Linked DNA regions of Homo sapiens. The protein of the gene in region 1 purifies or fractionates together with the protein of each later gene. This does not show direct contact. Each region holds a gene or a part of one and is shown on either strand. Other genes may lie near its edges.

Region 1 (5,876 bases):
TGTGTCCAATTCTGGATTTCAAAAGGATTGAATTAATTTTTAAGCTCAACTTGTTATCAACCTTTTGAGTGATATTTAATATACCTAAAGTGAGGGTACGGGAGAACTGTATCCACTCAGAGCATTTCACCAAGGTCCAGGAAGGATAAGCCCCAGGTAATTGTGGGACCTCCTTGCACCTCTGTTTTCTCATCTTCAAATGAGGGAGGTTGGGGTAGATAGACAACCTCAACTTTAAAGAGTTTCTTTCTTCAAGTGTAGAGAAAACACAATGTTAGAGGTAAAAATCCAGAAAAGAGTGAAATTCAAAGCCAAAGAAGTTTCCTATTCAATCTCAGAACCCAGAATTCCAGGTCATCTGAAGGGTGGGCAGGTTGCTCCCCACACCCCCCATTGCACCTACTCACTTTTCTCAATTCTGTTCCAAAGGATTTAGACAATGATTAGGTCTCAGTCTCCTTATCTGTAAGTTGAGAATACAAATACCTGCTCCACACAGTTGTGAGGATTAAATGAGACAATGTGTATGAAGTATGTGATGTGTGGTTAATGATGCAAGTATAATGCATTATCTTTATTCATACTAAGTGTCATTTTTATATGAGGTGGGCTAGGCAGCACTACACTGTAGTGAAATTTATGAGGCTACTGGAAACAGACCTGAGTTAGAATCCCACCTCTGCTTCTTGCTGATGGCTTTGGATGGCTATTTCACTTTTTTCCAAGCTTCCATTTCCTTACAGGGTTCTTGCAGAATCAAATAAAATAATATGGAACATTTCCATCATTGCAGAAAACTCTTGGATAGTGTTGACATGTGTATTAAATATCCAGCAGGATGCCTAGGTACATAATAAGTGCTCAGTAAACATTTCCCTCTCTTTCCTCCCTTTCTTTTTTTTAAATCTCTTCCGCGAGCTCATAAATTATTTGACTGGTTCTAACCTTGTATTTCTTTTGGGAGTCATGGTCTCCCTTTGCTCTCCATTTGCAAAAATCTTCAATTCCTCCTTTCTACAACCAAAGCAACTTTATTAAACAAAAAAACATGATGAGGACTGTTGAGTCACCTTGTTTTTTTTTTTTTTTCATAAAGACAACCATGCACTATATAGTTAAGGTAATTACAGTCAGTTATTAGGTTGATTATTCAATAATTAGGGTTCATTACAAGGACAGATTTATATTATCTTGACTGGTCCTTCCTACATTCAAGCAAGGATGACTGAGCATTGTGAAATAATATATATAAATATTGGAAACTTGTGATACCCTTTCTAGGGGAGGTTAAATCATGGTCTTACAGGGAATTTTCTGGGACTGCTTTATATAAGAGGGGAGTTAGATAGCTTTAAAACATAACCTATGAGATGATTGGATTCCTTCTACTTCTAGCTAATGTTATGAGACATCCCAGAAGGTATTTGCTTAGCTTTTTTGAGGTTTGGTTAAAGAGTTCGGTTTTTTTTGAACAAGGTCTTTATAGCCATCTCAACTCTCAGATTCTAAAAATTATGCTCATTTTATTATTATTGGTTCTAGCAATATGCCATTGTCAGAACTGTGAGCAACTTTACTGCAAGCAACCCACAAACGGAAATATCTAGGGATGTCATGATGACCTATATGCTGGTGTGGTGACAACTTTTAGGCATAATCTTCAAAATAGTGTAACAGCCTTTTGTCGATGGATAACCACATTGTTCAAAAAAGTTTGAGGTGGAGCAGAACTGAGGTAATGAGAAAGTAAACACTCTCTTATGCCTGGTGCACTGAGCATGCAGCATGAACACCAGCCCTTATCATTTCTATGACATCGTTGGGTCATAAGTGACATTAAACAGCAGCTGGTTGCCTCACATTTTAAAGATGTTTTTGGTCTGTGAGAAATCAGTAGTCTCATTTTTGAAACAGTCTGTAGCACTTCTATCATTTTTGCTGCCTTCTTTTTCTACATTATCCATGGACAGTAGACTAATTAAACAAAACAGACGTTTCCCACTCCAAATTTAAGATATAATAAGAAAACATCCCCCAAAACCTTTGTGCACAATTACTTCAAGCGCTGATGCCATTTTCCTGGAAATTGTCTTCTGGACTCATTTTTCCTCCCGAGGGTCCCCTGGCAAAGCAGCCCCATCTGGATCTCCAGGGTCACCCAGCATCTTACCTGCTCCTGCAGGTGTGTGATGTTTTCCTCATACTGGGAATAATCTTTCTTACTGCCAGGATCTCTCTGCTGGTGCCATTTCAGGATGCGGCTTTCCAGCTTCATGTTGGCCTCCTCCAGGGCGCGAACCTTCTCCAGGTAGGAGGCCAGGCGGTCGTTGAGATTCTGCATGGTGGCCTTCCCATTTCCGCCTAGTAGGGGGCTGCTTCTTCCAGAACCCCAAGACCCTCCAGGGGGTGGGCAGCTCCGCGTGGTGAAGGACAGGGAGATGCGGGCTCCCCCCGCACCGCCATGGACGGTGGGAGCCCTGGGGAAGCTCCTGGGCCGGCCCCAGCCACCTCCGGCGCCATGGAAGGAGGCCGAGGGGGTCTGGCTGAAGCTGTGTCCGGAGTTCATGGTCCCATCTGTGTTTGGGACGGGGCTGAGCTCTGCTCCACTCCCTGGCACCGCAGAACTGAGCCGCCCCAGACTGCCCTGGATGGTTTTATGGCCTTTGCTGTGGGAGTTCCCTTCTCTGACAATTGTACCAACAAGATTGTATCATTGTGCAACTTGTGTTTCCTCTTGGTCAATCCCAAAGTGCCCCTGGGCCTTCGCACACTGTTGTTGTTTAGAGCCACATCAATATGACAGTTTGCTTCCTCCCTTCCCCTGGTAACCCGGAGGTGTGGCCCACGACATCAGGCGGGTATTGGGCTCAGGTATCTTTCTAATCTTGCCGTGAAGTTTTTCCATTGTTCATTTACCTGGAATGGGTTAGGTTAAAGTCCACCCAAAAGAAAGCATATTCGATGTAGTATAGATTTCCTTAAAAAAAACCAAAAACCAAAACCAAAACAAAACAACAACAACAGCAACAAAAAACCAGACATTAAACAACAGAGATACACACACCTTTTTCCACCCCCAATAAGCCCCACCTCTAAAGGGAGGGTGAGCGAGCCTGGAGAAGGGAAAGCCAGCTCAGAACAGGATCTCAGGTCCCAGAATAAAGCTTGCTGTGCTGAGGCAGCCGAGAAGGTGGTGAATATCTGATGCCTTTGTGGCAGTCACTGTTTGAAGGAAAGTACTTTCAAAGGACTCGCTCTTAAGAACAAACCCTCAATTATAGATGTAATTAATTAATGAATGACCGAACCTTCCACTTCCAGGGTGCCTTTCATCCCAGCACACCTCAAAACCAAACAACCCTGGCCTGCGCTCAGGATTTCCCTTGGCCCTGGGGGAGGAATGTAGCCGTTGTTAGCAGCCCCGGACCCCGGCTGAGCCTGCCACGGCTGGGCTCTGTGTGTCTGTGACCTGCAGAGGGACGATGGAAAACAGGAAACCTGCCATGGGCTGTCAAATGTGGTTGATGAATCTTATATTTCATCTGCCAAGGTAAAGGTTAGGAATGAATAAAGAAGCAGTCTGGGGGCGGGAGCCACGTGCTAGTTACTGGCAGTTGGATTTAAAGGGGACTTACAAATAAAATATCAGCGCAGGAAGGGCTTCTGGCCTTTCTGGTTCCAAGCCACTAATTGGACAGATGAGGAAAGCTGAGGCCTATGGTGGTGGGGAGGTTAGTGGCAGAGCCAGGGCTAGATTCTTTCTCCACATAGCACTGTTATCTTGGGTTGAATCTTGACAGGTCCTGTACCACACTTCTCTTTCATAATAATAGGACTTGCCAATTGGTGTAGCTCTTTTATATTCTTTATTGAATCCTCACAACTCTTTATGTATCCAGGCAAGGGTTGTTGTCTTCATTTTGCAGACAAAGAATCAGGGTCTCATAGGGATGAATGATCCAGAGCTGATTCGCATGTACAGTGTAATTGAGCACATGAATTCATAGGTGACACTGCCCGAGTCTGTGCTGTCCTCCCTGCCTGGAAAGTCACTCACCCCTACCTCTTCTATAGTTCAAGGGCTACCTCCTTCAACAATCATTTTCTGAATTCTCCTGCATGAGTTGGGTGACCCTCTAGGAGGAAACTGCCTCTTCTGGATGCCGAGGTCCTCCAGAGGGGCAGACACCTTGGCATCCCACCTCATGGTGGAAGCTGGGAGCCCCTAGCCAGGCGCAGCCACCTCCTGTGCCTGGGATGAAGTCCACTCCGTTCTTTCACTCCATTATACTGCATTTGCCACACCCTTCTGAGACCGCAGGCTTCTTGAAAGCAGAGTTTATGTCTTCCATTTTTGAGCACCAAAGTCTGGTTTCTTGGTGGTATTTTGCAAATGTATGTTGACTCAATCATAAACTTTTTAGAGTCAGGATTTTAACACAGGTCTCCTGATGCCATCAACTTCTGCTCCTTTTAGGACTGTGAGTTATAGAACTAGAAAGTAGGAAAACGCCTCTCCTGGGTATAGATTAACCATCCATGAAGGCCAATCTTTTCCAATTACAAATAAAGCCACCCAAAAGCACACCAGCTCTGCTCCTCCCAGTCTTACAACAAAACCTTATCAGGGAAGAGTCTCTGAATATTTTTTATTTCACTGTGCACGAGCTGGAAAAATGAGCCTCCAAGCCTCAGGGAAGCTTGGAGAGTGCTTAGAAAGAGTGCCGACAGTCACTTACATCTCAGATATGAGAAAAAGACAAAAGAGACAAGTGATAAAAATAGAGCAAATGAGGGAACTAGAGAGACTTGTTTGGCGAGTGGTGGCAACCAGTGTTCTGTGGATGTGGACGGTTCCTGGTCATCAAAGTTATGGTCAGCTCTGGTTCCTGTTCGCCTGGACCCAGACTTACCAAGGAAGAAAACATTTACCTTTAGCATGTGCAAGGGCCGGGCTGCACTGCCTTTTTCTAAATTCTCTCACCAGAATCTACAATGAAATTAATGCTTCTCTAATTATTTCAGGCATGTCTGAGTGGCAGTGACTTATCAACCCCATAGATTTGGCCACTGTCTCATTTTATGTCCATGTGTGGGAGTTTTGATTTATAGGACTTATCCTTGAGCAAAAGATTTCTTGTGTCATAGCAGGACCAGGGCCAGGAAAAACTGGTGGTGAGATCTGAGAGCACTGGGGAGAAATAGTCTCTTCTAGTACTGTTATATGATGGTTTCCCATAACTTCTTTTTTTTTTTTTCTCAAGATGGAGTTTTGCTCTGTCACCCAGGCTGGAGTGCAATGGCGCAATCTTGACTCACTGCAACCTCCGCCTCCTGGGTTCAAGCGATTCTCCTGCCTCAGCCTCCCGAGTAGCTAGGATTACAGGTGCGCACCACCATGCCCAGCTAATTTTTTGTATTTTTAGTAGAGACGGGGTTTCACCATGTTGGCCAGGCTGGTCTTGAACTCCTGACCTCATGATCTGCCTGCCTTGGCCTCCCAAAGTGCTGGGATTACAGGCATGAGCCACCCTGCCCAGCCAATTTTCCATAACTTCTTTTTTTTTTTTTTGAGACAGAGTCTCGCCCTGTCGCCCAGGCTGGAGTGCAGTGATGTGATCGTGGCTCACTGCAACCTCCACCTCCCGGGTTCAAGCGATTCTTCTGCCTCAGCCTCCCGAGTAGCCGGGACCACAGGTGCGTGCCACCACGCCCGGCTAATCTTTGTAGTTTTTAGTAGAGACGGGGTTTTACCATGTTGGCCAGGCAGATCTTGAACTTCTGACTTTGTGATCCACCCACCTCGGCCTCCCAAAGTGCTGGGATTATAGGCATGAGCCACCGCACCCGGCCCTGGTTTTCCATAACTTCTAATG
Region 2 (4,369 bases), on another chromosome or scaffold:
CTTTATTTTTTACATCCTCATGTTTAGCTTATTTGAAGAGGATGCTGATATGTTATTAACACAAGTATTAAGAATCTTATGATTAAATATAATCTAAGCAAATATTCTTGAATCATGGACTGATAAATATATGGAGTAGTAATAATGTTTAATATTTAACCTTAGGGGTCAGGAGTTTGAGACCCCATCTCTACTGAAAATACAAAAATTAGCTAGGCATGGTGGCACGCACCTGTAATCTCAGCTACTTGGGAGGCTGAGGCAGGAGAAGTGCTTGAACCTGGGAGGCGGAGGTTGCAATGAGCCGAGATCATGCCACTGCACTCCAGCCTGGGTGACAGAGCAAGCAGAAAAAAAAAATTAACCTCAGGTAAAAAGGAAATACATCTTTAGGAAATACATCTACAAAGTTTGCTGTTTAATAGACTTTTATTGTTCCAGATTAGGACCCAAATGCACTGTGATAAAATCTAATTGACATTAGACAATTAACCTTGTATGATGATAAAAACTGAGACAGGTTCCAAAAGCAGTGGCGTTCCAAATGCACATGTATCTTATTATATGATCATAGTTTACTTTTACAAAGGTTATTCTATATAAGCCCGGCCATTTGAAAAGTTAACTCTGAAGTCGCCACCAGCTTCACTTTGAGGAACTTCATTTAGTTTGCAAAGGCAATACCATCGCCTGGCCCATATTGTGTGGGACAGCAGTCGGGTAGAGACAGTCAGCTGGACAGTCAACGTAGGGGCCTTCTTCAGTAAGATGCTTCCTGGCAGAGAACAGAGGAAAATCTTTGTTCCAAAATGAAGGTTTTGTTGAAAGAGGAGAGCTACTGTTTATGGAATGAAAAAATAATGAAAAAATAATAATAATGTGGCCTTTCTGAAACTAATGTAGAGAAGCAGAACAGGAATTTTTCTGATGTCAGGAGTGATGAGTAAACAGCATTGTTAATCTGGGATTCTAAGTGGCTTTAATTTAAAATCTTGTCATGGGGATGTTAAGAATGGTTACCTCTAGGTAGAATTCCTGGCGATTTTACTTATATTGTTATACTTTTCTGTATTTTCTGTTCTAAATACATTCTGCTCTTGTAGTCAACCAAGACTTTAAGGGGAAAGAAAAACATAAACAGCTTGAAAGGGAGAATGGGTATCAAAGAGATTTTCATTATAATTTGTTTTAAAGATAGATTTTTATTCATTATGCAGTTGTTTTGTTTTGTTTTTTGCCCCACCTTATACTTCAGCATTGCTTGATTATTTTATTGTGGCTATAGGGAACAAATTACTTCAGGTCCTAGGGGTAAATAAATATTTTTCACTAAAACATTCACAGATAATTCCCTAAAAGAATTCCTTAATTACATATCCTTAATGTTCAAGATCAGTTTTTCTTTTGGTTGTACAAACTTAATAACACCAACTTGCAAATAAAATAGGATAGGGAAAAATCCAGAACAGATTTTTTTAAATCCCTTTAGCATCTGCCCTAACTTAATTGGCATGTTGCATGTACATTTCACTTATGTGTGCTCAGACACTTACATTTCCTGTCATTATACAGTTGAAATAAAATTTGTAATTTATTTGTATTTATTGAACATGAATATAGTAAACTATATCTATTATAGAGTGGGTCTTAGAGAGTCTACACACCTCAAAAGATTATGATTCTATTCAAAATCTAATGGGTTTTTATTGAGGAAAACATGTCAAGTACAATTAAATGGATACAATTCAAAGAAAAGCCAACTGTGTCACCAAAAGGATGCTGTGGCTTGTCTAAGATCACAGAGGCTGTGGTCCTAGAGAGCATGAGCCCTGGGTCTGGGCTTGGTCTAGGTCTTCAGTTATCGTAAGGGGGCCCCTGGGCACTGACTTTGACACCACTCCCTGACTTTGCTACCGAGAGAAAAGTCATCATTATTTGACAACAGCAACTTCACGTCTTTGTAAAACTATGAGCTCGTCTCACAGTAAAATCATCTGTATGGTTCATAAAGAGCAAAATATGAAAAGTGAGTTTTTTTTTCTGGTTTTTTTTTTTTTTTTTTGAGACGGAGTCTCGCTCTTTCGCCCAGGCTGGAGTGCAGTGGCGCCATCTTGGCTCACTGCAAGCTCTGCCTCCCGGGTTCACGCCATTCTCCTGCCTCAGCCTCCCGAGTAGCTGAGACTACAGGCGCCCGCCACCACGCCCGGCTAATTTTTTGTATTTTTAGTGGAGACGGGGTTTCACCATGTTAGCCAGGATGGTCTCAATCTCCTGACCTCGTGATCCGCCCGCCTCGGCCTCCCAAAGTGCTGGGATTACAGGCATGAGCCACCGTGCCCGGCCCAAAAGTGAGCTTTTATGGCACAGAGGTTGCATTGTACAGTGGTTGTATGCATGGATTCAGGAAACAGACTGTCTGGGTTCAAATCCCAGTGCTGTGTGATCTTAGGAATTTGCTTAATCTCTTCTTGCATCAGTTTCCTCATTATAGAATGAGAATAGTAATAGGACCAACCTTCTAAGTTTGTGTGACGACTTAGTGAGTTAATATATTAAGCGTTTAGGACTCTGCCTGACACATAGAAAGTGCTGTTTTATAGGAGTGTTAATGGGTATTAATTTTTCCAGAAAAAAAAATCTACCATTGGCATATCATTTAATAATATTATATATCCAACTAAGTATGTTCATAAATTAGGTGCTAAGCTTTTAGTGGTAATACTGTTTTCTTAACAGTACAACCTAGAAATCATATGCTACTTACAGAGGTTCATTTCTATTATGATCCCAGGAGGTATACACAGCTGGAATTATTGTAGCAACCTAGTGACATGAAAGAAACAGAAAGACAAGGCTTAATAATACTAACAATTGTCTAGTTATTCAATGTCTGCATTATTAATTCCATTTTATTACTGGTCCATATCTTAGAAAAACTCAATACACTTTAGATGCACTAAAAAAAAACATGATTAAAATTCATTGTTAGAAGAATATAGTTCAATTTCCTTACGGCGTTAATGGAAGGTTTACTTTGAAAAAAAGTGATTTGAAAAAGTAGGAAAGAAATTTTCACTATAGTCTTATAAAAGTCAGGCTATCTTAAAAATATAATCAAAATTAATGTTATAACATGATAATATGATAAAAATAAAATTATAAATGATTATGTTTCTTGAAAAGGAGCCTTCAATAACTCAAATTATTATTAAACTGTAAAAACATACAGAAAAAGGTTGATTCACATTCTCTTTTCAGTTTTAGATGACTTGGATAGCAAATTGGCTCAGGAACAGTCTGCAAGCTCAGTGAATACCAGAACACCCCTCAACTATGGATCAAGAACACAGTTCGGTCACTTTTATTCCAGTGGTAACAGACATGGTAATATCACAGAAAGGCACAAAAAACACTATAATGAAACTTCCAATATGTCTATCTATGACATCCTAAGACCAGGAACTCCTAGGGAAGGTTTTAAAACCTTTTCTCCTAGGACAAGCACAATTTATGATATGTATAGGACAAGGGAGCCCAGAGTCTTTAAAGAAGATTATGTGCAAAAGAATACTTTTGGCAGTACTTCGCTGTGTTTTGACAGCAGGCAACGGTCGGCCTTACCAGCCACAGGGCATTTCACAGCAAGAAGCTTACATTTTCCAGCCACAACTCAGAGCAAGAGTGGGTTTATACCACCAAGGCACCAGCAGAGTCCAAAGAGAACTCCTTTATCATCCATCATATGGAACAGATCAGATTCCTCTAGAGACAGGGAGAACCAGGAAGAGTTCCTGAGGGCACCATCACCAATGGAAATTGATCCCGCTGACAAGTATGTGTATCCCAGGGGTTTTCAGGAGAATAAGAGATATGAATCGTACCATTCACAGAATGTTTACCAACGTGTTAGTTTAAATGCTCCCATGGAGAATGCAATGAGTCCCGACACTTTTGAGAACTCAGAGAACATGCCATTCTACCATCAAAGCAACACATTTACCAGATCTTTCTTCAGCAATACCTTTGGACGAAGCGGAGAACAGAGGAGATTTGGACAAGGTCCTTTTTGGGGCCAAGAGAAAGGACATTCTTTCTGGTCTGACTTTCATCGAAGCAGGAAATCATTCAGTTCTTCTGACAGAGACTTTGAAATGATTTCCATGGAAGCAAATAGTGTATCAGCCATTCATGGCCATAATGTTTCTTCTGAACACTGGGAATCATTTTCTTCTGGTTATGGAACAGATGTTTCCAGAGGCCAAGAAGAGCCACATCCTTGGCAGTTTGATTTTCAGAGATCCACACTGGATAGCATGGTGGTATCACATGGTAATGAGACCCAGTTGACTCCTCATTTTGGCACACCAAA
Region 3 (4,369 bases), on another chromosome or scaffold:
AGTACAGAACCTTCATTTTACAGATAGGTAAAACAAAGGAGCAGAGGGGCTCTTCTCAAGGATATGCGGTGAGCTAGCAAGGAAGCTAGGATCAGAGCCCCCAGCTCACTTCACATCTCCTAGAAGGCTGAGCAATGACTCAGAGCACTGATGTGCTGTGGGAACAGCATGGACTCTCGAGTCACACAGGGCTGGGTGCCCTGTGGCGTACCCAGTGGCCCATATAGCCACTCAGTGGCTATATGACTCTGGTCAAAGCACAAGCTCTCCCCAAACCCCAATTTCCTCATTTATAAAACGACTACATGCACCATGAAACATGGATCAAGTCCTTAGGTTAAGTCCCTTTGGATAAATGGGGAAGCCTCATGCTAGATACTTTCTAGGTGCCCTGTGGTTCATAAATGATAACAGTCAAGAAGAGATGAACAAGAGAAAACAAGTGTACGCAGGTGGATGTGGGTTGCCTGGGAGAGAGGAAGAGCTTGGTGACAGAAAGCCTGCGCTCTAGAGGCAGATGACTCAGACCTCATTCCAGTCCTGCCATTTATGAGTTTGTTTTTTTGAGACAAGAGTCTCACCCTGTGTGTTTGGAGGTGGCAGTGGGTGAAGTGACTCTGACCAGAGTTATGTTATTGAGTGAATACTGCTCAGTAACCCAAGAGTATGGGTGGGAAGTGCCCTCCTGCCCAATTACATAACTTACTTTTGCTGTGCCTGTAAGAATGGGCCTGAACATAGGAAAGGAGGTCCACTTAGTGCTTTCTTCCTAAGCAATTCATACATATCATGCCATGTCATACCACCAATGCCTATATTACTGATGAGAAATTGAAGATCAGAGTGAAGGCATTCACCCGGGGTTACACAGCTGATAAGCCGCACTACTGTATTTCAAACCCTGTGAACTTTGGAGTTCACAGATGGACCTCCTTCTCCTCATATTGCCCTTCACCAAGAGCAGAGCTTTGTGAGTTCCCAGAATGAACTCTCTGGGGGACTGTGTGTCTGGGGTTCTCTGGGGCCCAGTCAAGGGACCAGGATGTAGAGTCTATTTCCCTGGAAAATTGGACTGGGCGTCTTTTGGAAAAAGAGATGATGCCTCTCTCTCTTGAGCCAACTTGGCTTTCCTGTTTGCCTGCTCTCTGCAGGTCTTGTGCTCAGTACCGGGGGTACAAAGGTGACTAAGACACGGTGCTTGACCTTGAGGTTAAATAATACACCCTGAAGTCCTCTCCTAAGCCCACTTCCTCTCTCACTCAACATTCTGCCTACAAGAAACCCATTTGTTCTAACTGCTGATGACTCCAAAGTGTCTCTGGCTTCAACTCCATCCTTCAGCTTCAGATCATTTTACTGACCTGCCAACAGGCTCCTCCCTCCATTTCCAAACTGACCTCATCATTCATTCCACTCCTCTTTCTCACACCTGCTTCTCTTCATCTTCATGAACAGGAACCTGAGTGTCATCTTTGACTTCTTTCTGCCCTCTCTTTATTCCTCCCACCTCTTAGCCAATCAAGTCCTACCTCTCAGACCCACCCACATGTCTCCATTCACACTTTCCATCTTAGGGCACAAGCTCTCCCCTGGACTTCCCAGTACAGCCTCCCAGTGGGTCTCTCCAGACATGCTGTTGCTCCACACGGCAGCCTGAGCAATCTTTGTGAGCTGTATGTCTGATCACATCACTCCCCTGCTGCAAAAACTTCATCTGCTTCCCACCACCCAGGTCCTCAGCATGACTTGTAAGCCCTGACAGGTGTGGCCCCTGCTGTCTTCCGGTCTCTTCCCAAATCCTCCCTCTGTCCCATGCAACCTGAACCATCTACACAGATACTACACTTGTTCTCGCCCTCTTTTCCTCTTCCCGTGAATGCTCCTCCTCAACCTGTGCTTGGCTAGTTCCTTACTGGTCCCTTCACGTCTATTTTTTTTTTTTTTTTTTTGAGATGGAGTCTCGTTTCTTTGCCCAGGCTCGAGTGCAATGGTGCGATCTCGGCTCACTGCAACCTCCGCCTCCTGAGTTCAAGCAATTCTCCTGCCTCAGACTCCCAAGTAGCTGGGATCACAGGCACATGCCAGCATACCTGGCTAATTTTTGTATTTTTAGTAGAGACGGGGTTTCACCATGTTGGCCAGACTGGTCTCGAACTCCTGACCTCAAGTGATCTGCCCGCCTCGGCTTCCCAAAGTGCTGGGATTACCGGCGTGAGCCACCGTGCCTGGCCCAGGTCTAATCTTAAACACCACTTTTACCAGAAAGCCTTTCAGGACCCACTCCCAGGAAAGGGTGGGCATCCCTCCAGCATGCCTGGGGCATACTAAACTTCCCCCATTAGGCACCAACCACACTGCATTATCGTTGTTTACCCACTAGACTGTGAACTCTGTGAGGGCAGGGACTGTGGGGTTCTTATCCTCTCTGTATCTCCCGACTAGCACAGTAGCCTGAATCCCACCGATGTTGAGGTGCTCATGATCTCAGCTTTCTCATACCCCTGAGGTGCCACAGGGCCCAGGGTGGTGGGCAGTCCCTGAGCTCAGCCAGACAGGGGTGTGTCCCCTGGCCCTTACTCCCCATGGAGTGACTTACCTGCAGCCTTTGCTGTTCTGAGTCCCGCTCCAGGACAGAGGCTTGTAGGAACATGGCTACCTCCTGCAGACTGCTGACACTGGCCTTGGTCTGCGCTAGGGAGAGTGCCAAGTCCTGGGCCTTCTCCCTCCACTCAATCTCCCTGGCTTCTGTCTGTCTCAGGGCTGCCTGTAGCCGCTCCAGCTCCCGCTGCAGCCTGGGCTCTAAAGAATCAAGTTTTAGAGATTGTTCCTCCATTGGGGAGGTTTTGTGGCTGTGGGGTAAGGCTTCCAGGTTGTTCCTTTGCTGGGTCTCCCTCAGCTCCAGAATCTCCTGTTCCTTTTGGGCTAGAGTCAGCTGTAGCTCCCTTACACTCTGATGAAGGCCCCTTATCTCCTCCTCTTCTCTCTCTTGCCCCAGATTCTGCTTCTCTTGGATCATATTCTCTTGGACCCTCTGGGCCAGAGACTTCTCCAGCAGCTGCTCCCGTTCCTGCTGATGTCTCAGCTCTTCATCCCTCTGGGCAAGTGCCTGCTGCAGCTGCTGCACATCCTCCTGGTATCGGAGATCCTGGTCCTGGATCTCACCTTCTTGTATCCTCAGAGCCTCCTCCAGCTGCCGACTGTGTGCCTGGCAGGCATCCAGGGAGGCTTGCAGGGTTGCAGTGCTGGCCTCCAGACTGCGGCTCAATTCTGCCTGCTCGAGGAGATGCTGCTCTTTCCCCTGCAGGGCAGCATGAGCCTTGCCAAGGGCCTCCTGCAGAGCCTCAGCCCGGGCCCGGGCAGCCTCCTCCTGATGCCGGGAGGACTGACTTTCTGCCCGCAGAGCTTCCAGCTCCTGGTCCCGTTCCTTGAGCACTGCCTGGGCCTGCAGCCAGCTGTCCTGCAGGGCCCTGGTCTCCACCTCATGCTCCTGTGCCTGCTCAGCACACTGCTGCTGGAGGGCCAACAGAGCTTTCTCCTGTTCCCGAGACTCAGCCCTTAGGTCTCCCAGCACCTCCTCCAGGGCCTGGACCCGCCGTCCCTCCACTGCCAGCTCTTCCTCCAGCCTTCGTGCCTGTTCCTTGTGGTCCTGAAGCTCTCCATGACGCTCCTTCAGTGTCATATGGGCTTGCTCCAGAGCTCCCTGGAGGGCGTCTGCCTTTTCCTTCACCCTCTCCTCCTGTCCCTGGGCCTGCTGCTGTTCTTGCTGCAGAGCCTCCAGTTCCTGGTCCCTCTGGGCTAGGGCTCTCTGGGCCTCATCCAGTTGACTCTGAAGTGACTGCTCCTTCAGCTCCCCTTGTTCCCTGGCTTCCTGCAGTTGCTGCTGCAGGACCACTATTTCCTGCTCTCGCTGGGACAGGAGGAGGCTGGTCTCACCTACCTTCCTGTGCAGGCCCTGGAGCTGCTGCTCCAGCTGGTCTTTGAGCTCCTGGAGTTCATGGATATGCTCCTGCTGACATTCCACCTCCTTCTCCTTATCACGCAGGATCAGCTTCATGTGCTCTAGGCTCCCGCGCTGTGCTTTACTTGGGCCCTTCCCTTCCTCTGCCCGTTCCTGCATCAGCTGCCTCTGAGTGGTCAGCTCCCGGCCTCGCTCTCTCAAGGACAGCTTGATCTGTTCCAGGTCCTCCTCCAGGATCTTGGTCTGCCGGGTCCTCTGATCCTCGAGAACCTGAATCCTCTCCTTCTGCAGCATCAGCTCCTGGTCTCTCCTCTCGAGATCCTGAGTCAGATGCTCTTTCTGCCTCTGCAGCTCCTCGATCTGTTCTCGCTGAGACTTCACCTCCTGGTCCCTCTCCTGCAGCTCTCTTGC

What was found. Proteins that work in one complex are often made in the same cells at the same time.
Region 2: the proteins of KRT23 (region 1) and EXPH5 purify together in Homo sapiens (affinity purification with mass spectrometry; one large-scale study listed by BioGRID and IntAct). This does not show direct contact.
Region 3: the proteins of KRT23 (region 1) and CEP250 purify together in Homo sapiens (affinity purification with mass spectrometry; one large-scale study listed by BioGRID and IntAct). This does not show direct contact.

The regions. Positions count from the first base shown.
Region 1 is NC_000017.11:40,934,038-40,939,913, forward strand, and holds the start of KRT23 (keratin, type I cytoskeletal 23), read right to left. Parts: upstream 3,610-5,876; 5' UTR 3,309-3,609; intron 3,234-3,308; exon of another isoform or gene 2,917-3,233; 5' UTR 2,567-2,916; coding exon 2,171-2,566; intron 1-2,170.
Region 2 is NC_000011.10:108,513,765-108,518,133, reverse strand, and holds part of EXPH5 (exophilin-5), read left to right. Parts: intron 1-410; exon of another isoform or gene 411-775; intron 776-2,764; exon of another isoform or gene 2,765-2,823; intron 2,824-3,258; coding exon 3,259-4,369. UniProt on the Homo sapiens protein: May act as Rab effector protein and play a role in vesicle trafficking.
Region 3 is NC_000020.11:35,503,233-35,507,601, reverse strand, and holds part of CEP250 (centrosome-associated protein CEP250), read right to left. Parts: coding exon 2,597-4,369; intron 1-2,596. UniProt on the Homo sapiens protein: Plays an important role in centrosome cohesion during interphase. Recruits CCDC102B to the proximal ends of centrioles. Maintains centrosome cohesion by forming intercentriolar linkages.